Homo sapiens: one gene and its partners. The protein of the gene in region 1 purifies or fractionates together with the protein of each later gene. This does not show direct contact. Each region holds a gene or a part of one and is shown in the gene's direction. Other genes may lie near its edges. The genes, in order: OAT, CBS, TXNRD2, ABHD10, OXCT1, NEK10 and ALDH1B1.

Region 1 (4,305 bases):
CCACCACACCTGACTCAAGATTCTCACTCTTTTTTTTTCTTTTATAGAGACTATGTTGCCTAGGCTGGTCTTTAACTCCTCGGCTCAAGCGATCCTCCCATCTTGGCCTCCCAAGGTGCTGGAATTACAGATGTGAGCTATCACGCCTGGCCATTTTTTTTTTCTTGAGACTGGGCCTTTCTTTGTCTCCCAGGTTGGAGTACAGTGGCACAATCTCAGCTCACTGCAGCCTCAACTTCCGGGCTCAAGCAATCCTCCCACCTCAGTCTCCTGAGTAGCTGGGACTGCAGATGCATACCACTACACCCAGCTAATTTTTCAATTTTTTTTAGTGATGGAGTCTTGCTCTGTTGCCCAGGCTGGTCTCAAACTCCTGGGCTCACGTGATCCTTTGACCTCAGCCTCCCAAAGTGCTGAGATTATAGGCATAAGCCAAGGATTCTCACTCTTAATGCATTCTCTTTTCTTTGGACAGATCTGTGGTTTTTCTACTTGAAGGACACAATGTTTTCCAAACTAGCACATTTGCAGAGGTTTGCTGTACTTAGTCGCGGAGTTCATTCTTCAGTGGCTTCTGCTACATCTGTTGCAACTAAAAAAACAGTCCAAGGCCCTCCAACCTCTGATGACATTTTTGAAAGGGAATATAAGTATGGTGCACACAACTACCATCCTTTACCTGTAGCCCTGGAGAGAGGAAAAGGTACGTTTCAAATTAATCCGTCTTTTCCCTTTTCTTGAAACCTTTTATAAAAAAAAATTGCTTCCATATTTTCACAATATACATTTTTCTAGATGTGTTTAATGTGTATATTGCAGACATGGTTAATTCTTCTTCTTCTTTTTTTTTTTTTTTTTTTGAGACGGAGTCTCACTCTGTCACCCAGGCTGGAGTACAGTGGCACAATCCCAGCTCACTGCAACCTCTGCCTCCCAGGTTCAAGCGATTCTTCTGCCTCAGCCTCCTGAGTAGCTGGGACTACAGGCGTGCGCCACCACACCCAGCTAATTTTTGTATTTTTAGTAGAGATGGGGTTTCACCATGTTGGCCAGGCTGGTCTCAGACTCCTGACTTTGTGATCCTCCCACCTTGGCCTCCCAAAGTGCTGGGATTACAGGTGTGAGCCACCACGCCTGGCCAGTTAATTCATTTATTGAGTGTCTAGTGCTGCTGTGTTAGGTGCTATGGAGGCTTCAAAGAGGAACCATTGTCTTTGTCATGTAGACCTTACCAAGAGGGAATGCAAGAGAAATAAGGAAAGTACTATCATATTGCTGTCATTTTTTTCTTTTAACTTTTATTTTGGCATAGTTTTAGACTTAAGAAAAGTTGTAACAAATAGTACTGACATTTTCCTTTTATACTTCTCCCAGATTTTCCAAGTGCTAACTTTTTGCTGCTTTGGTCTTAGTGTGTTCACTCCCTTCTCTTCTCCCCCCGCCGCCTGCATATTCTACATTGTTTTCTGAACTGTTTTGAGAGGAAGTTGCAGACATGACATCTCTTCTTCTTTTTTTTTTTTTTTTTTTTTTTTTGAGACGGAATGTCGCTTTGTCACCCAGGCTGGAGTGCAATGGTGGGATCTCGGCTCACTGCAACCTCTACCTCTCGGTTTCAAGTGATTCTCTTGCCTCAGCCTCCCGAGGAGCTGGGACTACAGGCCCACGCCACCACGTCCAGCTAATTTTTGTATTTTTAGTAGAGACAGGGTTTCATCATGTTGGCCGGGCTGGTCTCGAACTCCTGACCTCAGGTGATCCACCCACCTCAGCCTCCCAAAGTGCTGGATTACAGGCGTGAGCCACCGCGCCCCGCCACATGACATCTCTTTACCCATAAATACTTAGTGTGTCTTTCCAAAAACGCAATGACTTTTTGAGATAGGGTCTCATTCTGTTGCCCAGGCTGGAGTTCAGTGGTGTGATCATGGCTCACTGCAGCCTGGAACTCCCGGCTTCAGGTGATTTTCCCACCTCAGCTTCCCAAGTAGCTGGGACTACAGGTGTGCCTTACCATGCCTGGCTTATTTTTTGTAGAGATTAGATTTTGCTATGTTGCCCAGGGTGATCTTGAACTCCTGGTCTCAAGTGATCCTACCACTCAGCCTCCCACAGTGCTGGGATTGCAGGTGTGAGCTACTGTGCCCAGCTGACTTTCTCTTTTATAACCATAGAGTAATTGTAAAAATCAAGAACTTAACACTGGTACAGCACCATTAGTCTAGAGACCTAATCCAGATGTCATTTGTTCTCTTTTATAACAAAAGAAAAACCTCCGATGAGTTGCATTCAGTTGTCATGTTTAGTCTTCTTTAACCCAGAACAGTTCCTCAATCCTTGGTTGTCTTGGTCTTCTTTCCCTTTGTATTAAGTATCTTGTGGGGACAGAGTGTAAAACTCTGTAAATATCCAGTTACTCATGAACTTTTACTCACAATTTCAGCATCCACTAATGATTCTTGCCTGAATAAATGATTACGGTGGTAGTTGCCAAATGGTGATTTAATCTACAATTTGGAATAAATAACAGCCTTAACCAAATAAAACCAAAGTTTATTACTTAGCTTTGTACCAGAAAATGACAATATAAGAGTATCACACATTTTGGTCATTTGCTTGTATTTTATTTGGTACCAGTACTGTAGACATATCTTCTTTTGAACTATTGAAAATCTGTTTCATATTACATGACATGGCAACCTTGTTTTTACTTTCCCACTAGCAATGTATGAGAGTGCCAATTTCTTCAGATCCTTGTCAAAAGTTGTTTTTTTAATTATAACCATCCCAGGGAGTATGAGATGGTATCTCATTGTGGTTTTAACTTGCATTTTCCTAATGATTAGTGATGTTGAACATCTTTTCATGTGTTTCTTGCCATTTGTATATCTTCTTTGAAGAAATAGCTATTCAAGTCTTTCCCCATTTTTTAAATTGGGTTGTTTGTCCTTTTGAAATTGAGTTGTAAGAATTCTGGATATTAGATCCTTATCAGACACATGATTTACAAATATTTTTTTTCCATCCTAAGGGTTATTACAGTCTACTTCTCATGATTTTTGTCTGTTATGTGTAACTTCTGCTTTTTTATTTTTAAATTTTATTTATTTTATTTTTTTTTTTTATAGGCAGGATTTTGCTCTGGTGCCCAGGCTGGAGTGCAGTGGCACAATCTCAACTCACTGCATCCTCTACCTCCCAGGCTCAAGCAATCCTCCCACCTCAGCCTCTGTAACGGGACCATACGCGCGCACTACCATGCCCAGCATTTTTCTGTAGCGTCAGGGATTTTGCCGTGTTGTCCAGGCTGATCTGGAACTCCTGGGCTCAAGCAATCCCTGCCTTGGTCTCCCAAAGTGCTAGGATTACAGGCGTGAGCCACGGCTCCCTGCCTAACTTCTGCTTTTAAATTCTAATTTTGGATCCTAAATCTTAGAATTAGGTAAAGGTTTTACTCCAGAGTTTATAACCTTTTTGTGTTATTTTTGTTAAATGTGTGTTTTGAAGCTGGGCAGATAAAATACAATTCTTAGTAATTCCTTACAAACCAAAGTTTATTATGCCTGAGCTAAAACAAGCTTTAACTACAAATATGTATTAAATAGAGGTTCATATATAGGCATTCAGAGGGCTTGCTAGCACTCTTAATTTTTGGACTTTATGCCGTATAGTAATTGTCTAAAATTATTTTCCTTTCTTATGTATTTTAGGTATTTACTTATGGGATGTAGAAGGCAGAAAATATTTTGACTTCCTGAGTTCTTACAGTGCTGTCAACCAAGGGCATTGTCACCCCAAGATTGTGAATGCTCTGAAGAGTCAAGTGGACAAATTGACCTTAACATCTAGAGCTTTCTATAATAACGTACTTGGTGAATATGAGGAGTATATTACTAAACTTTTCAACTACCACAAAGTTCTTCCTATGAATACAGGTAAAACATTTCCTTTTTTTGTTAAATACCCTCAAAAATAATCTTTTTATTTTTTGATAGTTTAACATTTTAAAAAAATCTGAACATTTTTCTCTCCTGATAGGAGTGGAGGCTGGAGAGACTGCCTGTAAACTAGCTCGTAAGTGGGGCTATACCGTGAAGGGCATTCAGAAATACAAAGCAAAGATTGTTTTTGCAGGTATGTGAAATTAAATATTAACTTCTATGATTGAAACATACAATATAATTTACTGTGGCCAGGCATGGTGGCTCATGCCTGTAATCCTAGCATTTTGGGAGGCCAAGGCAGGAGGAGTCTTTGAGCCCTGGAGTTCAAGACCAGCCTTCTGGGCAACATAGGGAGACCCTG
Region 2 (3,878 bases), on another chromosome or scaffold:
GCCAGGAGAGTCGCTCGCAGGTTTTGGGTCATAGATGGCAGCCCTGGGCCTGGGGCCCACAGGAAGAGTTGGGAGGGGCCCTGGAGCCTGGAGCCTGCCCACCCACCAGGCCTGTGTGCAGGGGGTGAGCGCTCGGTGGCTGAGGCTGGTCCGTGAGGGCCCCAAGTCTAACCCCATCTCCCGTCCTTGGCTCTGCAGCGCAGGACCAGGCCTGGGCAGGCGTGGTGGGGGGGCCTGCAGGTAGGTATCACCCACCCCTCAGAATGGCTCTCAGGCTCAGATTCACAGCCTCCCCATGGCAAATGGAGGCCTTCCAGGGTCCTGGACCCACCCCCAAGCTTGGGTAGGAGGGATCCCCCTCTTAATCTCACATTTACTTGTGTTTGAACATCTCAGAAAAAAAAAAAGATGCAAATTCCAATGTCAGGGTCCCCAAATCAAGTCTTCCTGGAGCATGTCCACGCTTGTCACCACCGTCTGTGGCTGCTTTCAAGCACGTCAGGGCTGCGTGCTCATAACAGAGACGGCACGGCCCCCAAGACCTAAAATACCACCAGCTGGCCCTTGTCGGAAAGTCCCCTGGCTGGCCCTAGTCCATTGACTCTGGGCCGAGCTGCCAGGGCCACAGAAGCCTGCGGCACTCAGGGCTCCCAGGGCTCCCTTCTCCAACAGTTGCTGTGCCTCCGTTTCCCCAAAATGCAAGGAGCTGATCTCATCTGTGTTCCCTATCTTTTCCTGGGGCTCTAAGTGGGCCACCCCAAGGGACCTCTGCCTACAAAGAGAGGAGTGACAGCCGTGGCGGAGTTGGGACGGGCTCCGAGGGCTCTTCCTCACCCGCACCTTGCTCACCCCTCTGTGCCTCATGACAGCTGGTGTAGGGTCCTGTGGAGACGCAGGACCAAGAGGATGTGTGGGGAGCGGGGAGAGAGAGGGAACGAGATCTGTGTTAAGGAACTGGATCATGAGATCACGGAGGCTGACAAACCCTGAGATCTGCAGGGTGAGGCGGCAGGCCGGAGACTGGAGAGCCAGCAGTTCAAGCCCCAAGGCAGGAAATTCCACCTTTGGTTCTATTCAGGCCTTCAACTGCTTGGGTGAGGCCCTCCACAGTAGCACACGTTATCTGCCTCTTGACTCTTGTGCTAATCCGGAATCCCCTCACACATGCCCAGAACGACGTGTGACCAATGCCTGGGCTCCCACGGCCCCGTTAATCTGTATTAAAATTAACCATCACAACAGCCCTGTCTGGGTATGTGGCATGGGAGCCTCGGCCAGCATTAACACCGGGTCTACGCTTGCCAGGAGAAAGCAGGAGGGGTGAAGACAGAATCAGGCCAGAGATGGAAGCTGTGTGCTGCCCATGGTGGCAAGGGGTTTTTGTCTGTTTTTAGAGACAGGGTCTTGCTCTGTTGCCGACTGGAGTGCAGTAGTGCCATCATAGCTCGCTGCAGCCTCGACCTGCTGTGCTCAACTGATCCTTCTGCCTCAGTCTCCCAAGTAGCTGGGACCACAAGCGTGTGCCACCATGCTCGACTAATTTATTTTTAAAAATATTCTGTAGAGACAGGGTCTCAATATGTTGCCCAGGCTGGTCCCAGACTTCCGGGCTTAAATGATCCTCCCACCTTGGCCTCCCACAGCGCTGGGATCACAGGTGTGAGCCACTGTGCCCGGCCCTGTAAGCGGGTTTGAATTTCATGCCCACACCGGCTCTGAAGTCATGAGTGCCTCAGGAGCTCAGCCGGTGGGCCAGGGAAGGGTGTGTCCTGACCTGCGGTGGGTGGAGCCTGGCCTGGGGCCCAGGGGACTCACGTGGTGGGTAGAACCTGGCCTGGGGGCTCATGGGGCTCATGTCAGAAGAACACTGGCTTGGCCAGGCACAGTGGCTCACGCCTGTAATCCCAGCACTTTGGGAGCCGAGGCAAGTGGATCACTTGAGGTCAGGAGTTCAAGGCCAGCCTGGCCAACATGGCAAAACCCCATCTCTACTAAAAATACAAAAATTAGCTGGGTGTGGTGATGTGCACCTGAAGTCCCAGATACTCGGGAGTCTGAGGCACGAGAATCACTTGAACCCAGGAGGTGGAGGTTGCAGTGAGCCAAGACTGCACCACTGCACTCCAGCCTAGGGGACAGAGTGAGGCCCTGTCTCAGAAAAAAAAAAAGGAACACAGCCTTCGCCGCTGGGCTCCAGCCACCCTGGGCCCCCATGGTGCACAGGTGCCCCAGGCCCTCAGGAGCCTCCTGCCCCGCAGCAGCCCACCCAGCCTCCCACGGCACCTGCAAACCCACTGCCTCGTTCTCCCCTCAGACCACAGCACCGGGAAGTCCAGTCAGCGGCAGATGGTGTTCGGGGTGGTCACCGCCATTGACTTGCTGAACTTCGTGGCCGCCCAGGAGCGGGACCAGAAGTGAAGTCCGGAGCGCTGGGCGGTGCGGAGCGGGCCCGCCACCCTTGCCCACTTCTCCTTCGCTTTCCTGAGCCCTAAACACACGCGTGATTGGTAACTGCCTGGCCTGGCACCGTTATCCCTGCACACGGCACAGAGCATCCGTCTCCCCTCGTTAACACATGGCTTCCTAAATGGCCCTGTTTACGGCCTATGAGATGAAATATGTGATTTTCTCTAATGTAACTTCCTCTTAGGATGTTTCACCAAGGAAATATTGAGAGAGAAGTCGGCCAGGTAGGATGAACACAGGCAATGACTGCGCAGAGTGGATTAAAGGCAAAAGAGAGAAGAGTCCAGGAAGGGGCGGGGAGAAGCCTGGGTGGCTCAGCATCCTCCACGGGCTGCGCCGTCTGCTCGGGGCTGAGCTGGCGGGAGCAGTTTGCGTGTTTGGGTTTTTTAATTGAGATGAAATTCAAATAACCTAAAAATCAATCACTTGAAAGTGAACAATCAGCGGCATTTAGTACATCCAGAAAGTTGTGTAGGCACCACCTCTGTCACGTTCTGGAACATTCTGTCATCACCCCGTGAAGCAATCATTTCCCCTCCCGTCTTCCTCCTCCCCTGGCAACTGCTGATCGACTTTGTGTCTCTGTTGTCTAAAATAGGTTTTCCCTGTTCTGGACATTTCATATAAATGGAATCACACAATTGTGGCCTCGTGTCTAACTTATTTCACTTTGCATGGTATTTTCAGGCATGTCAGAGCACGTGTACTTGGTTTCTTTTTGTGGCCGAATAATAAGCCATTGTGTGGATAGACCACATTTTGGTTCCTCATTTATCGGTGATGGACACCTGGTTGTTTCTGCTTTTCAGCCCTTGTGAGTAACCTGCTGTGCACCTTCATGGCCGAGTATGTCTGGACACCTCTTTTCACTTTTCTTGGGTGTGTACCCAGGAGTGGCATTGCTGGTTAATGTGGTAACTCCATGTTTAATTTTTTTTTTTTTTTTTTTTTGAGATGGAGTCTTGCTCTGTTGCCAGGCTGGAGTACAATGGCACAATCTCGGCTCACTGCAACCTCCACCTCCTGGGTTCAAGCGATTCTCCTGCCTCAGCCTCCCGAGTAGCCAGGATTACAAGTGTGCACCACTGTGCCTGGCTAATTTTTGTATTTTTGTAGAGACAGGGTTTTACCATGTTGGCCAGGCTGGTCTTGAACTCCTGACCTCAGGTGATCCACCTGCCTCAGCCTCCCAAAGTGCTGGGATGACAGGCGTGAGCCACTGCGCCCGGCGTCCATGTTTATTTTTTGAGGAACCATCAAGCTGTGTTCCATACTGGTCACACCGATTTCCATTCTCACCAACAGTGCCCGAGGGTTCCAGTTTCTCCAGGTCCTTATCAACACTTGCTATTTTCTTGTTTTAAATTATTATAGCCATGCTAGTGTGTATGAAGAGGTGTCTCATTATGGTT
Region 3 (4,305 bases), on another chromosome or scaffold:
TGAGCCACCATGCCTGGCCCCCCGCTTTTTTTTTTTTTTTCAGTACTTTAAAAATTTTGCCCCTCTGACTTCTGGCTTGCATTGTTTCCAGTGAGAAATCTGCTACTATTTTTATCTTAGTGTCTCTGTAGTGTGTCTTGGTTGCTTTTAGGATTTTCTCTTTTCATTGGCCTTGAGTCCCTCCTTCTTCCCCTCACATGTGGGGACTTTTAATTCCATGTATATTAGGCTGCATGAAGCTTCCCCACAACCTACTGATGCTCTTTTCATTAGAAACATTTCTTACTCTGCGTTTCATTTTGGATAGTTTCTATTCCTATGTTTTCAAACCCACCAATAAAAGATTCTGCAACATCTGACCTGCCATTAATCCCGTCCAGTGTATTTTTCATCTCCTGTATTGTAGTTTTCATCTCTACAATCCAGCTTGAGCCTTTGGTTATATCTTCCATGTTGCTCCTGCACTGTTTGAACATGCAGAATGGCTAGTGGGGCAGTGAGCTGAGGAGAAGGGACAGAGGGGAAGCTCAGCTGTTGGGTCTACGGGTATGATGGAGACCATGCAGCTGAAAGTAAACCGTCACCCCTTCTGCTTCAGTGTGAAAGGCCAGGTGAAGATGCTGCAGCTGATGAGGCTGGGCCTTAGGGTGCGGGGGGTGGTGGAATCTGCTTGTGGGCGGGAGATGTGGCTATGTGGCTATAAAGGATGAAGATGAACGCCCTGTTTGCTTTTCAGCCTCGCTTGGATCAAGGTTAAAAGGCCGGTTGTGGCCTTCTTGGTGGAAGAAAGAGAGAGATAAGGCACTGTCCTCCCCTTCGGAGGGTCTGGGGATACACTAATCCATCAAAACCACTGAGGGCTGGGCGTTGGTGTGTGCCTGTGGTCCCAGCACTTTGGGAGGCTGAGCTGGGAGGATTGCTTGAGCCCAGGAGGTCAAGGCGTAAGCAAGCTGTGATCGCACCGCTGCACACCAGTGCCTGGGCAACAAAGTGAGACTCTGTCTCTTTAAAAGAAAAAAGAAAAAAAAGCCTTTTTTTAAATTAAAAAAAAAATCAAGTCTACCTGAATGGCCTGCAGTTGGACCCACAAACCAGGTACCCAAGTTACCAGGCAAGGCAGCTGCAGTTGTACCAGTCAGAAGTCCACAAGATTTGAAAAAAAAAAAAAAAAAAAAAAGCCTCAGGGGTTTCAGTGAATGCTGTGTTAACTTTTTTTTTTGAGACATAGTTTCACTCTTGTTGCCCAGGCTTGAGTGCAGTGGTGCCATCTCGGCTCACTGCAACCTCTGCCTCCCGGGTTCAAGCAGTTCTTCTGCCTCAGCCTCCCGAGTAGCTGGGATTACAGGCGCCCACCACCACACCTGGCTAATTTTGTATTTTTAGTAGAGACGAGCTTTCACTACTGGTCGTGAAACTACAGTTGGTCAGGCTGGTCTCGAACTCCTGACCTCAGGTGATCTGCCCGCCTCGGCCTCCCAAAATGCTGGGATTACAGGCGTCAGTTACCACGCCCAGTCTGCTTGTTAACTTCTATAAGTCAGATGTTTGATGTGACCGAGTTCAAGGCTGATACAGCCCAGAGCCAGGACAGGTCGAGAGCTGCCCATTTTTAGGGCCTCAGACTTCCTACTGGGAGCATCGCAGCCCCTTCTGAACAGAGGTTTGGAGAAGGTGGGTCATTTGGAGAGAAGTGACCTAAACTATCCTAGTTGAAGGAATCTATCCTTGAAAGTCATCATTGAAGGAATTCAAAAAGAGAAAACTTAAGGGAAAGGAAAAAAATAGTTTTAAATTTTAAAGAGTGGGCATGTGGGAGAGGGGGTGGAGATAGTTAAGAGTTATAGGAAAACATTTCCAATTAATATGAGGAGAAATTTTATATTGGGAGAGTTCCCAAAATTAAATGGCCACTTGGGAAGGCAATACATTCCCAGACAAAGGCACCAGGCATAGGTGAACACTTGGTGAGGATGTTATGAAGGAGACTCAAACTTCAGGTAAGCAGGTAGAACAAATTGCATATAATATCCTTCCTGGCCGGGCATGGTGGCTCACGCCTGTAATCCCAGCACTTTGGGAGGCCGAGGTGGGCGGATCATGAGATCAGGAGTTTAAGACCAGCCTGACCAACATGGTGAAACCCCATCTCTACTAAAAATACAAAAAAATTGGCCGGGCATGGTGGTGCGCACCTGTAATCCCAGCTATTCAGGAGGCTTAGGCAGGAGAATCGCTTGAACCCAGGAGGTGGAGGTTGCAGTGAGCCAAGATCACGCCACTGCACTCCAGCCTGGGTGACAGAGCTAGACTCCATCTCAAAAAAAGAGAAAAAAAGATCCTTCCCACACCAAAAGTCTGTAGCTGTGAAAAGTAGCTACCATATAGTGCAAGTTGAGATGCATAAGAGGTTTATAAAACCACCCTGGAGTCGAAGGAGAGAGAACTTTTGGTAGGGAGTAAGTAGGTAAAAAGGGACCCAAAGGTCTGGGATCTTGAACACTGAAGGAGGAACAGTGTTCTGTGAGAAAGGTTTGTTTTTAACATGTTAATTTCTTCAACAAACCATTTGAATACTTAATGTGGTCCAAGCTCTGGGCCAGGACCCGGAACAACAAAGACAAACCAGGACCAAAGCCCCTGACTGACGGAGTTCTGCAGTTTAGTTACCGAGACAGACACATGAACAGATAGTTCATCATATGTGATAAGGTGGAGTTAGGGCACACAAGTGAGGCATCTAAGCAAGGAAATAAAAATAAAAAAGTATGGAATAGTTAGAATACCTGTTTTATTGATCTTTTCTGCTAATTCTGACATCTGTGTCTGTTCCAAGTCAGTCTCCATTGACTGATTTTTTTTTGTCCCCTTTATAGGTGTATTTTCCTGCTTCTTTGTGTGACTGGTAATTTTTGGTTGAATGCCAGACACTTGAATTTACCTTGTTGGGTTCTGGGCATTTTTGTATTTCTAGAAATACTATTATTGAGCTCTGTTCTGGGATGCAGTTATTAAGAGTCAGTTTGATCCTTTTGGGTCTTCTGCAAAAGATTTGTTAGGTGGGTATGGAGCAGTGCCCAGTCTAGGGCTAATGATTCTCAACTACTGGGGCATGACCCAACGCCCCAGGAATTATATGCTTTTCCCAGTCCAGATTCTGGGAACAGGCACTGTCCCCTGCCCTGTGTGGGCTCTGTCCCCTCCAGTCCTTCCAGGTGGTTCTGTCTGGTCTCAGGTAGTTTCCCAAGACACATGCGCCGATCAGATCTCTCAGATTCTCTGGGCAGCCCCCTCCTCACTGTCTTCTGTGCATGACCTCTGGCTGCCTCAGTCTCCCCCAGTTCTCAGCCCTCTCCTGTGCTGGATTCTCCCCATCTTCCCCAGCCTGCAGTGCTGGGTCCTGGAGACTCCCCAGGGCTCACCATGTTTGTTTCCTCTCTCTCAGGTCCTTTGTTACCTGACATGGAGTACCTGAAAGCCCGTTGTTTCATGCATTTTACCTGGGTTTTGGGTTGCTTCAGGGGGAGGGTAAATCTGGGCCCTGCTGCTCCATCGTGGTCAGATGTGGGAGTTACACACTGGCACACTGGCTTTTTTTTTTTTTTTTTTTGAGACAGGGTCTTGCTCTGTCACCTAGGCTGGAGTGCAGTGGCACAATCTTGACTCACTGCATCCTCCACCTGCTAAGCTCAAGCCATCCCCCCACCTTAGCCTCCCGAGCAGCTGGGACCACAGGCGCATGCCACCACACCCAGCTAATTTTTGTATTTTTTGTAGAGACAGGGTTTTGCTATATTGCCCAGGCTGGTCTCAAACTCCTGGGCTCAAGCAATCTGCCTGCTGCGGCCTCCCAAAGTGTTGAGATTATAGGCGTGAGCCACTGTGCCTTGTGGACATTAGCTTTTTTTTTTTTTTTTTGAGACAGAGTCTCGCTCTGTCACCCAGTCTGGAGTACAGTGGCACAATCTCGGCTCACTGCAAGCTCCGCTTCCTGGGTTCACACCGTTCTCCCGCCTCAGCCTCCCGAGTAACTGGGACTATAGGCACCTGCCACCACGCCCAACTAATTTTGTTTTTGTATTTTTTAGTAGAGACAGGGTTTCACCGTGTTAGCCAGGATGTTCTCGATCTCCTGCCCTCGTGATCTGCCCACCTTGGCCTCCCAAAGTGCTGGGATTACAGGCATGAGCCGCTGCACCCAGCCAAGCAAAATGGATTTTAAAAATGAACTCTTACAAAACTTTGTTCTAATCTTGCTTTCTAATAGCCACGAATCAAACACTTTCCTTGGCATTTTAGGGTTCATGA
Region 4 (4,305 bases), on another chromosome or scaffold:
AGGCTCTAAGTTATAAAAGGGTGTAACTGGGAATTAGGAGTAGTTCAGTATGACTAGAGTTTAGGTAACCTGTGGGTGTGGTATGATACTTTATACCACCATGATTTTTTATTGATTTGATACCCTTAAGGAGAGGTAAAATTCATAGATCAGACAGATAACTGAGCCTAGATAACTAGGAAGTTGGAAGGAGAAAGGGATGGGTTGGTGATGATGAATTTTATTCTGGTCTCCTTCCCTTCCATCAATTCACTAAATATACACTAAGCACCTACCACTCGCAAGGAACTGAACTAGGCACTAGGAACGCATTGAAACAAAGCTTGTGCCCATGTGGAACTTTCATTCTAATGTGGGAGATGGACCATAAATAATCAAATATATCTCAAGTAGTAATAAGTGCTATGAAGAAAATGAAGCAGAGTAAAGAATTAGAGAATGATGAAAGCAGCACAGTTTTAATAATTGAATGGTCATGGGAGGCTTTTCTGAGGATGTAATATTTGAGCCAAAGGCCTGAATGAAGTGTGGGAGCAATCTAAATGGCTATCTGGAGGAGAGTATGCCATGTGGAGAGAAAAGCTGATGAGATGGGAGCTTCAAGAAGCAAAGCGAAGATACAGTTGGGAGGGAGGGAGGGAGAGAGAGAAAACAATGAGAAATGAGATCAGAGAGGTGATCAGGCACCAAAGTATGGTAAGGGCTCTGGATTTAAAGATTATAGAAAGCCTTTGGAGGGTTTGCAAGACATGGTTTTGTTTTAAAAGGATCACTCTACTATATAGGGAAAGACAATGAGTGTGAAAATGCAAACAGGAGACTTTTTAGGAGACTATTGCATTCAGTTAGGTTGAGAGACAGTGTGACTAGCAACAGGCTGGTAGCAGTGGAGGAGGTGAGAAAGTGATTGGACACAGGAGGTATTTGAAAGTTAATAAGCCAATAGAATTTGCTAAAATACATATTGATTGTGATGTTTCACTATAAGCATTATAGTAATGAGGAAGGTGCTATCTTTCTTAAAAATTAAAGAAGCAGATATATAGATATTTAGATATAGATTTTTTTCCCCTTTTTCCAGGTTTGATTACTCAGGAGTTGGAAGTTCAGATGGTAACTCAGAGGAAAGCACACTGGGGAAATGGAGAAAAGATGTTCTTTCTATAATTGATGACTTAGCTGATGGGCCACAGGTGACTGTTTTGTTAAGTATGATGATAATTACTGTAACCTCGTATTTAAGCTGTTTGTTTTGTTTTGTTTTGTTTTTTGAGATGGAGTCTCGTGCTGTCACCCAGCCTGGAGTGCAGTGGCGCAATCTTGGCTCACTGCAAGCTCTGCCTCCCGGGTTCACGGCATCCTCCTGCCTCAGCCTCCCAGGTAGCTGGGACTACAGGCACCCGCCACCACGCCCGGCTAATTGTTCGTATTTTTAGTAGAGATGGGGTTTCACCGTGTTGGCCAGGATGGTCTCGATCTCCTGACCTCGTGATCCGCCCGCCTGGGCCTCCCAAAGTGCTGGGATTACAGGCGTGAGCCACCACACCCGGCCTAAGCTGTTTCTTTAGATATGAAAATGTTTTTATTTAATTTAAATGTTTAATCCATTTTGATATTTGATTTAAAATGATTCTATTTTTACTTTCTAATTTTTTATTGTACATATTTTGTTTTATGTTTATAACCTGTTCTATCTTAAAGACCTAATGTTTTATTTTATTTTATTTTTAGATTCTTGTTGGATCTAGCCTTGGAGGGTGGCTTATGCTTCATGCTGCAATTGCACGACCAGAGAAGGTCGTGGCTCTTATTGGTGTAGCTACAGCTGCAGATACCTTAGTGACAAAGTTTAATCAGCTTCCTGTTGAGGTAAGTCAAAAGTCACTTTTGCCACCTCAATATATTTACCGCTTATACTTCTTCTGCTCCCTCTTTCTTTGAGGGAAGGGGGGACAGAAAACAATAATTCCTTTGACTTACTGTGCTGGCCCAACTTTTGTCTTAGCTGCCTTTCTGTACACAACCTCTTTTCTATCTTTAACTATTTGTCATCTTGTTTAAGATTTCGTTTCTTCATAGTCTCTTCAAATCATTCTGCCAAATATTTGAGACACATTAACAATATCACACTTTGAAGTTTCTTTTTTTTTAGCCACATTTTCTTTATTATTACATTTACTTATTTGAATCATACATCGTGATCTCCTTTTGGTCCTCTTACTTTGTGGCATATGGGGAGTAGTGCCTGTTCTTATGACTATGTTAGAGTGGGCTAATGAACTGAAACTGCAGTCATCCCTTGGTATCTGAAGGGGATTGCTTCCAAGACCTCCCATGGATACCAAAATCCACAGATGGTCAAGTCTCTGAGAAAAAAAATGGTGTAGTATTTGCACATAATCTTGTATAATCTAAATCATTGCCAGATTACTTAAAATACCTAGTACAATGTAAGCGCTATGTAAATTGTTGCTATACTGTATCGTTTAGGGAATACGGACAAGAAAAAAAGACTGTACACGTTCAATACAGAGGTAACCTTTTTTTTCCAGATATTTTTGATACAAAGTTAGTTGAATCCATGGATGCAGAAACCATGAATATGGAGAGCTGACTGTCTTTGTTTTAGCCTAAAAGCAGCCTCAGTTCCTCCCAACAGAACTCTCCAGACAGATATTGTCAGTCAGAGTGACAGAGACACAGAAATTAAAGAAAACAGAGCAGTAGTTAAAAAATATGGTCCCTAGGCTAGCAGCAGCAGCAGCACCTGAGAACTTGTTAGAAACCCAAATTCTTGGGTTTTACCCTGAATCAGAAACTGGGGGTATGGCCCAGCAGTCTGTGTTTTAACAAACCTCTTGTAAAGTTTGAGAACAATGCTTTAGAGAATGGGGGAAGAGGAGAAGGAGGTTCAGAAATTTAAAAAAAAAGAAGAAAAAACGTATGCAGTGTTGAATAGTAGAATGTCATTGATTTGCCTCAAGTTCTGCATTAATACCTGTGCCATATATTAACTAAGTTCATTCTTAGTTCACGTTGTTTTAAGCTCCTTAAGAAATAGCATTGTGTGTGTATTCAGGTTTCTCATATTATTTCCTATCAGAGCTGAAATTACAAAGCTGGTCTTCCTTGAACTTATCTCCTGTTTCTGAATTTTGTTCACTTTCTTGGTGGTTTCTCATACATAGTTGCTCAATGTCTTCATGTTTTTCCCACCTTTGACATTTTGTGGATCTAAATGTGGACTCCTTGCTCCATCCTCTTAACTCAATAATACAGCGCTTCTTGGGTAGGAAATTATCTCAAAGACATAGCAGATTGAAAAGGAGTTGATTTTTGGGGGTTGGGGGTTTATTGTATTTTGTAATTATTGGTAAATGACAAAACCTGTGTACATTTGTTTTGGTTTTGTTTTTATTTGGGGGGGTTTTTAGGGTATCTCTGTTGCCCAGGCTGGAGTGCAGTGGTGCAGTCATTGCTTACTGCAGCCTTGACCCCTCAGACTCAAGAGATCCTCCCACCTCAGCCTCCTGAGTAGCTGGGACCACAAGTGCACACCACTATGCCTGGCTGATTTTTGTATTTTTTGTAGCGATGGGGTCTCGCCATGTTGCCCAGGCCGGTCTTGAACTCCTAGGCTCAAGAGATTCTCCTGCCTTGGACCCCCAAAGTGCTGAGATTAGAGACACAAGCCACTGTGCCTGGCCATGTACATTTCTCTGCGTGTGTGTGTGTTCACATCAGTCAGAGTGAGCATAGGGTAGATACTTTCTAATTGAGAAGATTTATAATCTGCAAATCAAGGCATTTTTTGCTAATACTTACTCAGATAAGCAGTTGTTAACAGAAGCATGTTGAGCCCTTGGTTAACTTAAAAGCATGTATAAGGAAAGAGCACCAACACTAAGACCGCTATCTCTTCTCCACATAAACAGCTAGCCCTAACAATGTCAACGGAGCAGATGTGGAGATTTTTACTATCTTTTATAACCCTGGGAATAGTAAGCCCAGCATTTCTCATTTCTTCTCTAAGAACTTGACCATCCTCTTTAACTGACTCTAATCATTATCACCTTCTTTGGACACTAGAGGGCCTCAGACATGATGCACAGCTGTTGGGAATGTAAGCTTCTGAACCACATTGCCTTGATAAGTTTTGTTGATGTAGAACTTAATATATTGTACATTTTCTTTGGGTAATGTCTTTGCTGTTTCTGAACTTTTTGTTCTTGAGGACTTGAGACATACAACATTTTATAAAGTTAACTTTGTTCTTCAGATGGACCATTTTCATTCAATTCAGTG
Region 5 (3,236 bases), on another chromosome or scaffold:
TATGAAATTTCCGATAAGATTTATCATTGATCATACGTCTCTTCATTAATATGTATTTAGGTAATCCAAAGATTACATAAAGCATCTTTCAACAAAATTATGAATTGGCTGGATCTATTTTGAGGTTTTGGAGACTTGGGGTTTGTACTGCGTCTTAAGTGAAGTCTCAGAGGCATCAGTCTCGGAGATCAGTGATCCATCTGACAGGGGGCTTGGTTATTGGGATCCTTTGTTTTCCTCTGCTCCTCTTCCACCTGCTCCTTGTTGCCAGCCTTGTTCATCCTTAATTTAGGAGCTAATACAAGAAGGTTGAGAACTACAAAATACCCAAAATGTAAACAGAACTGTTCTGTCTCAATGTTTCAGGATGGAAAATCATATGGAAACTCCAGGGAATGTCCATGGCAAGGCTGCTTGTTGCCTACATGATTGAAATTTGGAAATTAAAAGGAGAGAGATTTATATCATGCAGTTTTTCATAATTTGATTTTTTTTTCCTCTTTTACCAGGTTTCACCAAAACTCATGCCAATGCAGCAGATCGCAAATTGAAATATGGATATTTGTACCAGGCTGCGTGTTTTTCATTTTAAACACACAAGATTTAATTGAAAGGACATCAATAATCATAATTGTGTATTTAACAGGTGGTTTTTTATTAGTTTTCTTGTGTTTCAGACTTTATGCAGCCATATAAACTGTTCTCTAGGCATGCTGTGACATTTTAATAAAAAGCAAAAGGAGCATTTATAATTATCTCATTTGTTAAGGCTGAGAAGGTTGTTTTTATAATAGGTAATTATATTGAATGCATTTTCACTGAATATGGTATGTATGCTAAATTATATGAACCTTTCCCCAAGAAGGGCCCTAGAAATTGATGTGGCTTTCCTCTTAAATATTAATTATTAGTCCTGAAAGAAAGATAACATATGTGATTTTTGTGGTTAGGAGAGTTGCTGTCATGATTGTTTTTTCTTCAGCCTCCTCTGACTTTTCTTTTGGGGCTTCAGATTTTATGATTACATCTTGTCCCCCTAGAACATCCCCCTTCCTCCCATACTGCTTTTAAACAGATGCCCAAGAAGGCAAGCAGGAATGCCTCTTGTGGGGGAGGGCAGGGAGAAATAACTAGTTCAAACCAACTATCTATCTATGCTTTGCAAAGACTAAGGCGTATTATAGGAAGAGGGCTAGAAACCTAACTGATTCTTCTCAGTTTTCTCATTTTAAAACAGCCCAGTATTCCTTTGTATCCTCAAGGGTCCTTGAGAATACTTCTGTTATTGAGACCCTGTGGGCTACTTGTACTGTACCTCCTCTCAAGCCAAGAAGGGCTGTGGGATAATTTACCATGAATCCTTAGTAGCAATGACAGCAGAGTTAAAAAATAAAAGGTGTTTTACTTTCAGGCTCTTGTTTTGGTTCAGAGGAGATTTTAAATATTGAATGACACTTCTACAGAACAACGGTTTTTCTTCTGCCAAGGCTACTTCCTTTAACGAAGTGCCTTTAATTCAGCCTTATCCAACTAGGGAAAATAATGTTGGACAAGTCTAGGATTTGAAGAGTCAGTGAACTTTTAGTGTCAGGGAATAAACATGGTGGGTAGATTAGGTTTGAAAAAAACTTCCTTAGAGGTATTTATTCTCAATACCTGACAGGGGCCCATGGGAATGACTTCAGAAGCATCCCGGATAATAGATGGGTAAAAAGTCTAGGCACCCTGAAGAACAGGTGAGACAGCTGGCCTCTGGACAGAGGTAGGCATAGTACAGTACGATATATCATTCCTCTGGTCCTAAATATACAAACTTATTCATGTTTTTAGGTGATGATGGTCATTGAAACTCACTTCTTTTCAGGTGTAGCTACAATTGTGTAATGTACAATATTAGAGAAAGGACAGGCTTTTTATGAGTAACACACACCATATATAAAACAGCCTTTCTGGCTGACCACATGGTTAAATGCATACCTTCCCAGTACTGGGGGGAAAAAATGACCCTTCTTAGAATGTGCAAGTTCCATGAGAGTAATATATTGATATGATTTTGAAAAGAATTGTTGATAGTTACATCTTCAAACTTATCATTCCAGTATGCATCTTTAAGATAATGTGATTCTAAGTAGATGACTTTATATTCTTGATTGAAGAGTGCTATACATGTTAAGAAATGCATTAAGGAATACAATAAATATTCTAAAGTGATGTAGATCAGTGTGACTGTCCTTTATTTCACTTGGGAATGGCATTGCTAAATGTGGGAATAATGCAACAGATTGTCAGGGTAGCTAACAATAAAGTCAGCACACATCACCACTTCTTTTTTTTTTCCTTTTTTTTAAATTATACTTTAAGTTCTAGGGTACATGTGCACAATGTGCAAGTTTGTTACATATGTATACATGTGCCATGTTGGTGTGCCAACATGCTAATGGTGTGCCATTAACTCGTCATTTACATTAGGTATATCTTCTAATGCTATCCCTCCCCCCTTCCCCCACCCCATGACAGGCCCCGGTGTGTGATGTTCCCCTTCCTGTGTCCAAGGGTTCTCATTGTTCAGTTCCCACCTATGAGTGAGAACGTGCGGTGTTTGGTTGTTTGTCCTTGCAATAGTTTGCTGAGAATGACGGTTTCCAGCTTCATCCATGTCCCTACAAAGGACATAAACTCATCCTTTTTTATGGCTGCATAGTATTCCATGGTGTATATGTGCCACATTTTCTTGATCCAGTCTATCATTGATGGACATTTGGGTTGGTTCCAAGTCTTTGCTATTGTGAATAGTGCCACAATAAACATACGCACATCACCACTTCTAGTCAAGTTGTTGCTTTTCTTTTTATCTTACCAGAGAAAAGATATTGTTCTTCTAGAAAGATCAAGTGAACATTGAGTTTCACAACTTGCTCCTTGTCAGAGGCTGCTATGTTTACAAAAATCATTTATCCAAGGCTTCATGTGTGAATCCTTGTTCACTTTTTGTGTAACATTTTCCTTTACTGTACACATTAGTTGCCTGGTGCTGTGAGTTTATTTCCATTTTGAAGTGGCTCTAGTGGTAGTCTGCTCAGCATCTGTTTTGCTGCTCCTCTGGTAACAAAGGGGTGGGCACGTCCCCAGGATTTGCTACTTCCGGTAGCTGTCCTTGGTCGACAGTGGTTATACCCAGAGTTGTGCATATGACCAAGGATGTACCAGTTTATTTCTCCAACATTTAAAAAACAGAT
Region 6 (4,991 bases), on another chromosome or scaffold:
AATATTCTGGGATGGCCAAAACATTAGTTTAAGACTTTAATTTTACTGAGTAGTGGAAAGATGGGAAGCACAATTGGTATTCTGGTGAAGATGAGAAGTTCAGTGCAGTCATGTCTCACTGCTTAATGTTTATTTTTTGAGATAGAGTCTTGCTGTGTCTCTCAGGCTGGAGTGCAGTGGCATGATCTTGGCTCACTGCACCTCTGCTTCCTGGGTTCAAGTAATTCTTGTGCCTCAGCCTCCTGAGTAGTAGGGACTAGCATGTGCCACCATGCCCGGCTGATTTTTCTGTTTTTAGTAGAAACAGGGTTTGGCCATGATGGCCAGGCTGGTCTCGAACTCCTAACCTCAAGTGGTCCTCCTGCCTCGGCCTCCCAAAGTGCTAGGATTACAGGTGTGAGCCACCAAGCCAGGCCGACTGCTTAACATTTAGAATGTATGTACAGAATACTTTTTCTACTCAGCATCGGTCTTCCTGCCCCGTCACCTTGTTTTGTTTTATTGGTAACATTAATCCTGATTGTTTTAGATCTCTGAAGTTTAATTAGTTCTGCTATACTCACCAGAGTTTGGCTTTCATCTCGCCTTTCTGCATTTCCAAAATAGGACCGTCTTCATTTTAAAAAATGCTTTCAATTACCCAAGCTTAAGTATTGTTAATCCAATGGGCCTACTTACTATCCACACCAGAAAAACGTTAGGGTTCACTGTATTCATTTAAAATCCAGTTTGGGAAGATGTAACCACCAGACACACACACGAGCGTTTAGTGATACCAAGATGAGGTTGAACAGGGCCCAGTACTCGAAGAAATCGTCGAAGGAGCATCATCGTGGTTAAGACCAGACTCGAAGTAGGTTTTACCCTGACTCCATCACTAGCTCTGCCATACTGGACTACTTAGGAAACTTCTTGTGCCTCCATTTTATAACTAAGTGAAATAAGGAAAGAATTTGAAATCGTGCCCGGCACAAAATTAAGCACTTAATAGATTGGCATTTTTCATTTATTTAAAGTTACAGAATGTCAGGTATATTTTTAAAGCGTTATCTAATGCAGTTCAGAAATTTTAAAGAAGCTCCAGACTTTCACAAAAGGTGAAGTGACTTGCCCAAAGCCACAAAACGAACTGGCGATAGTTATACTATACAGGTTTCTTGAATCCCAGGTCACTCTTTTTGTGAAAAATACGGTGCTGTGGCACCTTATTCTCATTGCCTGTGGCTTGAGTAACTGAAGACGTTTTCATGCCATATGAAAGGTATTTAGCATGCTGCATTGATTCCTTATCAGATTAAATCTTTGCTTTTAAAGAGAATTGATTTTTAGCCCATAGCAATTCTTGAAAGTAAACACTCCAAGATGAAGCTGCCCTTTCCCATCAAAGGTTAGACACCCTAAATCCAGAAAAATCTTCAACGTGTAGGAGACCTGTTCACAGGTAGCTCTAGGTTCCGGTGAAGTGGCTGCAGCACAGCCTTCAGCATCACTTGCTGCCTCTTCTGCTTGCAAGCTTGGTGGTGGATCTAGCGCGTCTCTGGTTGCTACGGCGATTCCCCGGCAGGCGTCATCCGTCGCTATGGCGTTCTGCACTGCGCAGCATGGCTGCTCCCGATTGGCTGAGGCGCCCCAGGTGGCGGAGGAAGAATTGTCGGCATTGGCCTGGCCAGCGCTGGTTGGTGGCCTGGAGGAGGATTTGATTGGAAAACCAACGGTGCAGCTGGCCGCGGTGTCCCTGAGGTTGAGGGGACCGGGAATAGGCTGGGGGGAGGACGGGACGGGCTGAGACTGGACGGGACCCCCGGTCTGCAGCAGCAGGTGACAGCAGCAGGGACAATGATAAGGAGATTGGCCTGAAGGAGGGACCGTCCCTCCCGCGCGGTGAGTAGGCGGGAGCCGGTGCTCGGCTGTGCCGGCGAGCAGCTTGAGTCAGGGTCTCCGGGGAGACGTCCTCAGGTCCCTGTGGAGCGGCCCCGAAGCCTCGGGAGCCAGCTTCACTAGACAAGAGGCAGAGGTAGAGAATGCGGCTGTGGTGGGTAAGTGAGTCACTGCGTGAGGCAGTCTTTTCAAAGCAGGTGGGTTTGTGTTGGACGGATGGATGGTGGGAAAGCGCCATCAACGATGCTTCTTGGCGCTTCCATTTTGATAACGGAATTATTCTGGTTAAATGGAGCCTGAATGTGTCTCTTCCAATCTGCTCCGACGCCTCTGGAGGTTCATTCTTCATCTCTATGAGCGTCGCTTTTCTGCCTTCTCCTTACAGGATGCTGCTTTGACTTTGCCCCTCTGCTTTTCTGCCCTACTTCGGTGAGCCCTTCCACTTCCTCGCCTCAGGCACCATCTATCTGACGATGATTAGAAAGTCTCCAACTGGAACCTAGCCTGCTCTACTAACTGTCAGACCCCAAAATCCAGCTGCCAAGTTAACGCCACACATGTGCAACCCTGAACGCCATCTTCCCCATGTCTGCTGCTGCTCTTGGATTCCCTATTTTGGGCATCACTATCCATTCAGCTTTCAAAAACTACACTCTAGACGACATCCATGACACTTACTGCTGCTTCCTCTGCATCTCTATCAATTATCAAGACTATCCCTTCTTAATAGGTGTTGAATCAATTCCCACATTACCATCTCTATTTTTACTGTCTCAATTTCCACCATCGGTTGGTTAAATTCAACACCCATCTGGCTTCTCCGATTCTAGTCTGGCCCTATCTATCCAATCCACTTTTTTCCCCACCATTGTTGAACTGATATATATATATGTGTATATATATATATATGGAGTCCTTCTAAAAAAGACTCCTTTTTTAGAAGGAGTCTTGCTGTGCTGCCAGGCTGGAGTGCAGTGGAGCGATCTCAGCTCACTGCAGCCTCCGCCTTCCGGGTTCAACCAATTCTCATGCCTCAGCCTCCAGAGAGCTGGGATTACAGGCGCGAGCCACTACGCCTGGCTAATTTTTGTATTTTTAGTAGAGAAGGGGTTTCACCATGTTGGTCAGGCTGGTCTCGAACTCCTGATCTCAGGTGATCCACCCGCCTCAGCCTCCCAAAGTGCTGGAATTACAGGCGTGAGCCACCGTGCCCGGCTAAACTGATCTTTTTAAAACGCACATAAGGGCATTTCCCTTCCCTACTTAAAGTCCTGCAATGATTCCCCATTACCCTAATCCAATCTTTAGTTAGGCCTTCTATCAGCAGTTCCATCTTGATTGTTCCCAGAATATGTCACATTCTCTCCTGTGTGTAATTATCTCACCTGTTGCTCACACTGCCTGGAATGGACTTTCCTTTTTGCACCCCCACACTCCTGCTCTCACTCCCCAATCATTTTCTGTATGTTGCTTGATTACTGTTTCTTTCTCTGGACTGCCTCTGTGACGGCAGAGACCATCTTTGTCTCAGTCACTATTGTTATATATATCCAGCATTTAGCCCAGTGCAAGACATCGTAACAGGTGTTCAACAAATACTTGTTAACTGACTGAATCTCTAAAATGAGAAGTTACTGTTTGCCATGGTATCTTTATTTCTTCCAGAAAAGTCAGAAATGGCCAATGAAGCTTTTGCTTATAAAAGGTAAATATTGAAAAAATGTTATAAAAGGTACAGGTTTTACTTTAATTTCAAGACCCTTAGTAATTGGAAACTACTTCAATTCACAGTTTATAGTTCAAGCCATAATCATTATCACGGTAGCTGTTATTATATGACATAAGCTTAAAATGGTAAAGAGAGAGACAGTACAGCATGGTGTGCAAGAGCTAAGCTTTGGAGTCATACATACATGGGTTTGAATCCTAGCTCTAGCATTTTAATTGTGTAACACATAACAAATTACTTAGCCTCTAGTCAGATTCTTTATCTGCACAATGGGGGTATAATAGCACCTAGCTCATAGGATTCTTTTAAAGATTATATGTACATAATTCATACCAAAGGTATAGTGCTTTATATATAGTAAGCTTTCACGTTTAAAAATGAACACACTGGGCTGGGCATGGTGGCTCATGCCGTGAATCCCAGCACTTTGGGACGATGAGGTGGGTGGATCACCTGAGGTCAGGAGTTCAAGATCAGCCTGGCCCACATGGTGAAACCCCATCTCTACAAAAAATACAAAATTAGCTGGGCATGGTGGCGCACACCTGTAATCCCCGCTACTTGGGAGGCTGAAGCAGGAGAATCCCTTGAACCGGGAGGCGGAGGTTGCAGTGAGCCAAGATCACGCCACTGCTCTACAGCCTGGGCAACAAGAGTGAAACTCCGTCTCAAAAAAAAAAAAAAAAAAAAATGAACACACTGAAGTCTAGAGCTGTGAAATTGTCATGGTGAGTTTACAAAAGGTAAAAATCAATCTTTTGATTCAGTCAAGTGCAATTTCTAGGACACCATCCTGTTGTTATAGTACTTGATCACAAACTTTTGTGTTTGGCGACAGCTCTGATACAGCTCTGAGTCTCAATCATTCAGTGAGTATTTATTGACCATCTAATGGGTTTGGGGCTCCATGCCCAGTGAGGGTGAGCCAAAAGACAGTGCAACAAATAAAGTCTTCAGGAGGTGGAAGAAGGGCCTGGAATGTTACTCTGCCTGTCACAGCCAGTCAAGCTTTGAGGCTGAAGTCAAAGTGAACTGGGTTGAGCACTTGGATAGGCAGAGAGGAGCTGGAAGTTCATCCAGACAGTCAACAAATATTTATTGAACACCTGGGCCTTCAGCAGTGAACAAAACAAAGGCACTATTCTCTTAGGACAGTTCTCAGGGCGCAGTAGAGCAGAGTTCATAGAACACAGATTCTGGAGCCAGACTGCTTGGGTTGTAATCCTAGCTCCCCAAATCCTAGATATGGGATTGGCAAGTTAACTTAATCTTTCTGCACCTCAGTTTCCTCATCTGTAAAATGGGGTGGTTGTGAACATTACATGAATTAATATGGAAAAATTTCTTAGAACAGTGGTCAGTATGCCTCAGGAGCATGTAAATG
Region 7 (4,265 bases), on another chromosome or scaffold:
AGGCTCGGGGACGTAGCAGTGAATGGAACAGAAAAATAAGTTCCTGTGCTCATGGAGCTTGCATTTTACTGGGGGGAGACAGACAAACATATAAGCCTGTAAAGATAGTATTTGGGATGTGAGATAGAGAAGGAGTAAAGCAGGGTAGCGGGGATAGAGAGTGTTGGGGTGGGAAGGGTTGCAATTTTTTAAAGGGTGGTCAGGGAAGGCCTTGCTGAGACAGTGGCTTTTGAGACCCAGCAGAGGTGAGGGAGTGAGCTGAGGATAGGCGGGACGTGATGGAGTTGGCCCAGAGAGTTCATCAGGGCCCTCACAGCTCTTACAGTCTGTGTTTTTAGAGGTGACAGTCCTTTATGCTGGAATCTTGAAATGTTTGAGCTGGTGGGCCCTTGGGTACCGCCACCTGCCTTCTCCCACCTGTTCACCCTGGTTTCTTTTGTCCCTCTCCAGAGTGTCAGCATGCTGCGCTTCCTGGCACCCCGGCTGCTTAGCCTCCAGGGCAGGACCGCCCGCTACTCCTCGGCAGCAGCCCTCCCAAGCCCCATTCTGAACCCAGACATCCCCTACAACCAGCTGTTCATCAACAATGAATGGCAAGATGCAGTCAGCAAGAAGACCTTCCCGACGGTCAACCCTACCACCGGGGAGGTCATTGGGCACGTGGCTGAAGGTGACCGGGCTGATGTGGATCGGGCCGTGAAAGCAGCCCGGGAAGCCTTCCGCCTGGGGTCCCCATGGCGCCGGATGGATGCCTCTGAGCGGGGCCGGCTGCTGAACCGCCTGGCAGACCTAGTGGAGCGGGATCGAGTCTACTTGGCCTCACTCGAGACCTTGGACAATGGGAAGCCTTTCCAAGAGTCTTACGCCTTGGACTTGGATGAGGTCATCAAGGTGTATCGGTACTTTGCTGGCTGGGCTGACAAGTGGCATGGCAAGACCATCCCCATGGATGGCCAGCATTTCTGCTTCACCCGGCATGAGCCCGTTGGTGTCTGTGGCCAGATCATCCCGTGGAACTTCCCCTTGGTCATGCAGGGTTGGAAACTTGCCCCGGCACTCGCCACAGGCAACACTGTGGTTATGAAGGTGGCAGAGCAGACCCCCCTCTCTGCCCTGTATTTGGCCTCCCTCATCAAGGAGGCAGGCTTTCCCCCTGGGGTGGTGAACATCATCACGGGGTATGGCCCAACAGCAGGTGCGGCCATCGCCCAGCACGTGGATGTTGACAAAGTTGCCTTCACCGGTTCCACCGAGGTGGGCCACCTGATCCAGAAAGCAGCTGGCGATTCCAACCTCAAGAGAGTCACCCTGGAGCTGGGTGGTAAGAGCCCCAGCATCGTGCTGGCCGATGCTGACATGGAGCATGCCGTGGAGCAGTGCCACGAAGCCCTGTTCTTCAACATGGGCCAGTGCTGCTGTGCTGGCTCCCGGACCTTCGTGGAAGAATCCATCTACAATGAGTTTCTCGAGAGAACCGTGGAGAAAGCAAAGCAGAGGAAAGTGGGGAACCCCTTTGAGCTGGACACCCAGCAGGGGCCTCAGGTGGACAAGGAGCAGTTTGAACGAGTCCTAGGCTACATCCAGCTTGGCCAGAAGGAGGGCGCAAAACTCCTCTGTGGCGGAGAGCGTTTCGGGGAGCGTGGTTTCTTCATCAAGCCTACTGTCTTTGGTGGCGTGCAGGATGACATGAGAATTGCCAAAGAGGAGATCTTTGGGCCTGTGCAGCCCCTGTTCAAGTTCAAGAAGATTGAGGAGGTGGTTGAGAGGGCCAACAACACCAGGTATGGCCTGGCTGCGGCTGTGTTCACCCGGGATCTGGACAAGGCCATGTACTTCACCCAGGCACTCCAGGCCGGGACCGTGTGGGTAAACACCTACAACATCGTCACCTGCCACACGCCATTTGGAGGGTTTAAGGAATCTGGAAACGGGAGGGAGCTGGGTGAGGATGGGCTTAAGGCCTACACAGAGGTAAAGACGGTCACCATCAAGGTTCCTCAGAAGAACTCGTAAGAGCAGCTGTCAGGGAGGCCCAGTCACAGTCCAGCAATTCCACAACCACCTTGACGAATGCTTGCCAAGCTGTTTTAAAGCCAAGAACACCCTTTCTTTGTTCCAAATTAACTCTTAGAAGAAACCCCACAAATAAAGCAATTCAATCAAGGCTGTTCTATTTAAATCAGAGATGGGGACCAGGCTCAGAGTTCTACCTATCTAACCCCCAACCACAGCCCCCTTGGTGGCCCATGAGTTGCTTCCATGAAATCTTAGGAGTCTCTGGAGGACAGATTAAAAACCAGTGATCTGTAATTTGTAGCTCTTCCTGCTGATCCAAGGACTTTCCCATGGGTGCGCTTGATGGTTTAGTGGATCGACTCAACTCAGAACACAAGCTTGGAAAGTGTTAGGGGTTTTGAACTAGGTGGATACTAAATCTCGGCCCCACTCTTCATTGGCTTAACCTAAAAACCAGAGGTGCTTTTCCTTGTCTGTGTGCCAGTTGCTGGCTGTTTTAGTTGCTTGCCCTTCATTTTGCTACTGATTTTCCTTAATTTGTGGGAAGGAGTAGGCAAAGAATATGCTTACATGATTACACCTGTAAAGTAAGCCCAAACATCCCAAATGTCCGTCAACTGATGAGTGGATTAATAAAATGTTTCCATGGAATATTCCTTGGATTACTCAGCCATAAAAAGGAATGAAGTACTGACACATGCTGTGACATCAGTGAACCCTGAAAACATCCTTCTCAGTGAAACAAGCCAGAGAGATGTACAAGGCTACAGACTGTATGATTCCATTTATATGAAATATACATACTAGGCAAATCCATGGAGATGGAACATAGATTAGTGGTTGCCAGGGGATAGAGGAGTAATTGTTAGTGGGCATGGGATTTGTTTTTGGGAGGTTTTGAAAATGTTCTGGAGTTGAACAATAGTAATGGTTGCATGATTTGGTAAAAATACTAAAAACTATGGAATTGTTTAATTATGGTATATGAATTAATTTCTTTCTTTTTTTCTTTTTTTTTTTTTTTTTTGACACGGAGTCTCACTCTGTCGCCCAGGCTGGAGTGCAGTGGTGTGATCTCGTCTCACTGCAACCTCCGCCTCCCAGATTCAAGCGATTCTCCTGTCTCAGCCTCCTGAGTAGCTGGGATTATAGGTACATGCCATCACACCTGGCTAATTTTTGTATTTTTAGTAGAGATGAGGTTTCACCATTTTGGCCAGGCTGATCTTGAACTCCTGACCTCAGGTGATCCACCCGCCTCAGCCTCCCAAAGTGCTGGGATTACAGGTGGGAGCCACAACACCCGGCCATGAATTAACTCCGTTAAAAAATAAACGTATACATTCTGTGAGCAAATCCATTTTGTCTCCATATTGTCCTGCTGCTGAACATTTTATAGAGTGTGGGGGATGGAAGGGACCCAGGTGGTCTAGTCAACCCCCAGTCAGGTGCAAAAGTCCCCTCCCCAATGTTTCTGTTTTTGTTTTCTCTTGGATGGGTGACAAAGTGCAACTGTAAGACCCGTAGAGAAAAACTCTGGTTCCTGCTCAGAATGGGCCCATCTTGTTGGACTCGTTTCCACAGCCCCCCACCCCTTCCAAACCATACCCACCCTTCAAGCCAAGCCTAGCATGGGGGCCACCTTGACATGCTGGGGATTTCCAGAGTTTCAAACCTCAGAGTTCATAATGTTTATTGTTAGTCTTGCTACATTCATTCCCCAACTGATGGGAGTGAAGGCAAATCCAAGCCAGCCAGGCCACAATACAGAAGCAGAATGCTGAGCCTCCCTCTCTCGGTCCATCTTTCTAGACCATGCTGCTTACAAGCCACCTTACGTTCAAGTCCCCCCATTCCTGTAAATGCACACCCCACTCATCTCTGCTTCCCAGGCTCAAGCAATCCTCCCACCTGAGCCTCCCAAGTAGCTGGGACTACAGGCACTCACCACCATGCCTGGCTAATTTTTTTTTTTTTTTTGGTATTTTTTGTAGAGATGAGGTTTCACCATGTTTCCCAGGCTTGTCTCAAACTCCTGGTCTCAAGCAACCCTCCTGCCACGGCCTCCCAAAGTGCTGGAATTACAGGCATGAGCCACCATGCCTGGCCCCAGTCAACTCTTAAACATCCTATTGTCTTACCTAGGCAACATGATGATTTTGTTTATTATCATAACTTGGGTTTGGCTGGAAACTGCTGCTTGAGGGTTCAGAGTCTGTTTGGTTCCCTCACCTCCCTTCCTAGGACCT

Evidence for each region.
Region 2: the proteins of OAT (region 1) and CBS fractionate together in Homo sapiens (co-fractionation; one large-scale study listed by BioGRID). This does not show direct contact.
Region 3: the proteins of OAT (region 1) and TXNRD2 fractionate together in Homo sapiens (co-fractionation; one large-scale study listed by BioGRID). This does not show direct contact.
Region 4: the proteins of OAT (region 1) and ABHD10 fractionate together in Homo sapiens (co-fractionation; one large-scale study listed by BioGRID). This does not show direct contact.
Region 5: the proteins of OAT (region 1) and OXCT1 fractionate together in Homo sapiens (co-fractionation; one large-scale study listed by BioGRID). This does not show direct contact.
Region 6: the proteins of OAT (region 1) and NEK10 purify together in Homo sapiens (co-immunoprecipitation; one large-scale study listed by IntAct). This does not show direct contact.
Region 7: the proteins of OAT (region 1) and ALDH1B1 fractionate together in Homo sapiens (co-fractionation; one large-scale study listed by BioGRID). This does not show direct contact.

The regions. Positions count from the first base shown.
Region 1 is NC_000010.11:124,408,371-124,412,675, reverse strand, and holds part of OAT (ornithine aminotransferase, mitochondrial isoform 1 precursor), read left to right. Parts: intron 1-475; 5' UTR 476-504; coding exon 505-703; intron 704-3,710; coding exon 3,711-3,935; intron 3,936-4,038; coding exon 4,039-4,134; intron 4,135-4,305. UniProt on the Homo sapiens protein: Catalyzes the reversible interconversion of L-ornithine and 2-oxoglutarate to L-glutamate semialdehyde and L-glutamate.
Region 2 is NC_000021.9:43,052,420-43,056,297, reverse strand, and holds the end of CBS (cystathionine beta-synthase), read left to right. Parts: intron 1-198; coding exon of another isoform or gene 199-240; intron 241-2,314; coding exon 2,315-2,418; 3' UTR 2,419-3,107; downstream 3,108-3,878. UniProt on the Homo sapiens protein: Hydro-lyase catalyzing the first step of the transsulfuration pathway, where the hydroxyl group of L-serine is displaced by L-homocysteine in a beta-replacement reaction to form L-cystathionine, the precursor of L-cysteine.
Region 3 is NC_000022.11:19,920,717-19,925,021, reverse strand, and holds part of TXNRD2 (thioredoxin reductase 2, mitochondrial isoform 5 precursor), read left to right. Parts: intron 1-4,305. UniProt on the Homo sapiens protein: Involved in the control of reactive oxygen species levels and the regulation of mitochondrial redox homeostasis. Maintains thioredoxin in a reduced state. May play a role in redox-regulated cell signaling.
Region 4 is NC_000003.12:111,985,183-111,989,487, forward strand, and holds part of ABHD10 (palmitoyl-protein thioesterase ABHD10, mitochondrial isoform 1 precursor), read left to right. Parts: intron 1-1,081; coding exon 1,082-1,193; intron 1,194-1,731; coding exon 1,732-1,869; intron 1,870-4,305. UniProt on the Homo sapiens protein: Acts as an acyl-protein thioesterase that hydrolyzes fatty acids from acylated residues in proteins.
Region 5 is NC_000005.10:41,729,044-41,732,279, reverse strand, and holds the end of OXCT1 (succinyl-CoA:3-ketoacid coenzyme A transferase 1, mitochondrial isoform 3 precursor), read left to right. Parts: intron 1-509; coding exon 510-551; 3' UTR 552-2,215; downstream 2,216-3,236. UniProt on the Homo sapiens protein: Key enzyme for ketone body catabolism.
Region 6 is NC_000003.12:27,366,115-27,371,105, reverse strand, and holds the start of NEK10 (serine/threonine-protein kinase Nek10), read left to right. Parts: upstream 1-1,722; 5' UTR 1,723-1,881; intron 1,882-1,887; exon of another isoform or gene 1,888-2,075; intron 2,076-3,543; exon of another isoform or gene 3,544-3,583; intron 3,584-4,991. UniProt on the Homo sapiens protein: Plays a role in the cellular response to UV irradiation. Mediates G2/M cell cycle arrest, MEK autoactivation and ERK1/2-signaling pathway activation in response to UV irradiation.
Region 7 is NC_000009.12:38,395,290-38,399,554, forward strand, and holds the end of ALDH1B1 (aldehyde dehydrogenase X, mitochondrial precursor), read left to right. Parts: intron 1-450; coding exon of another isoform or gene 451-459; coding exon 460-2,013; 3' UTR 2,014-3,372; downstream 3,373-4,265. UniProt on the Homo sapiens protein: ALDHs play a major role in the detoxification of alcohol-derived acetaldehyde. They are involved in the metabolism of corticosteroids, biogenic amines, neurotransmitters, and lipid peroxidation.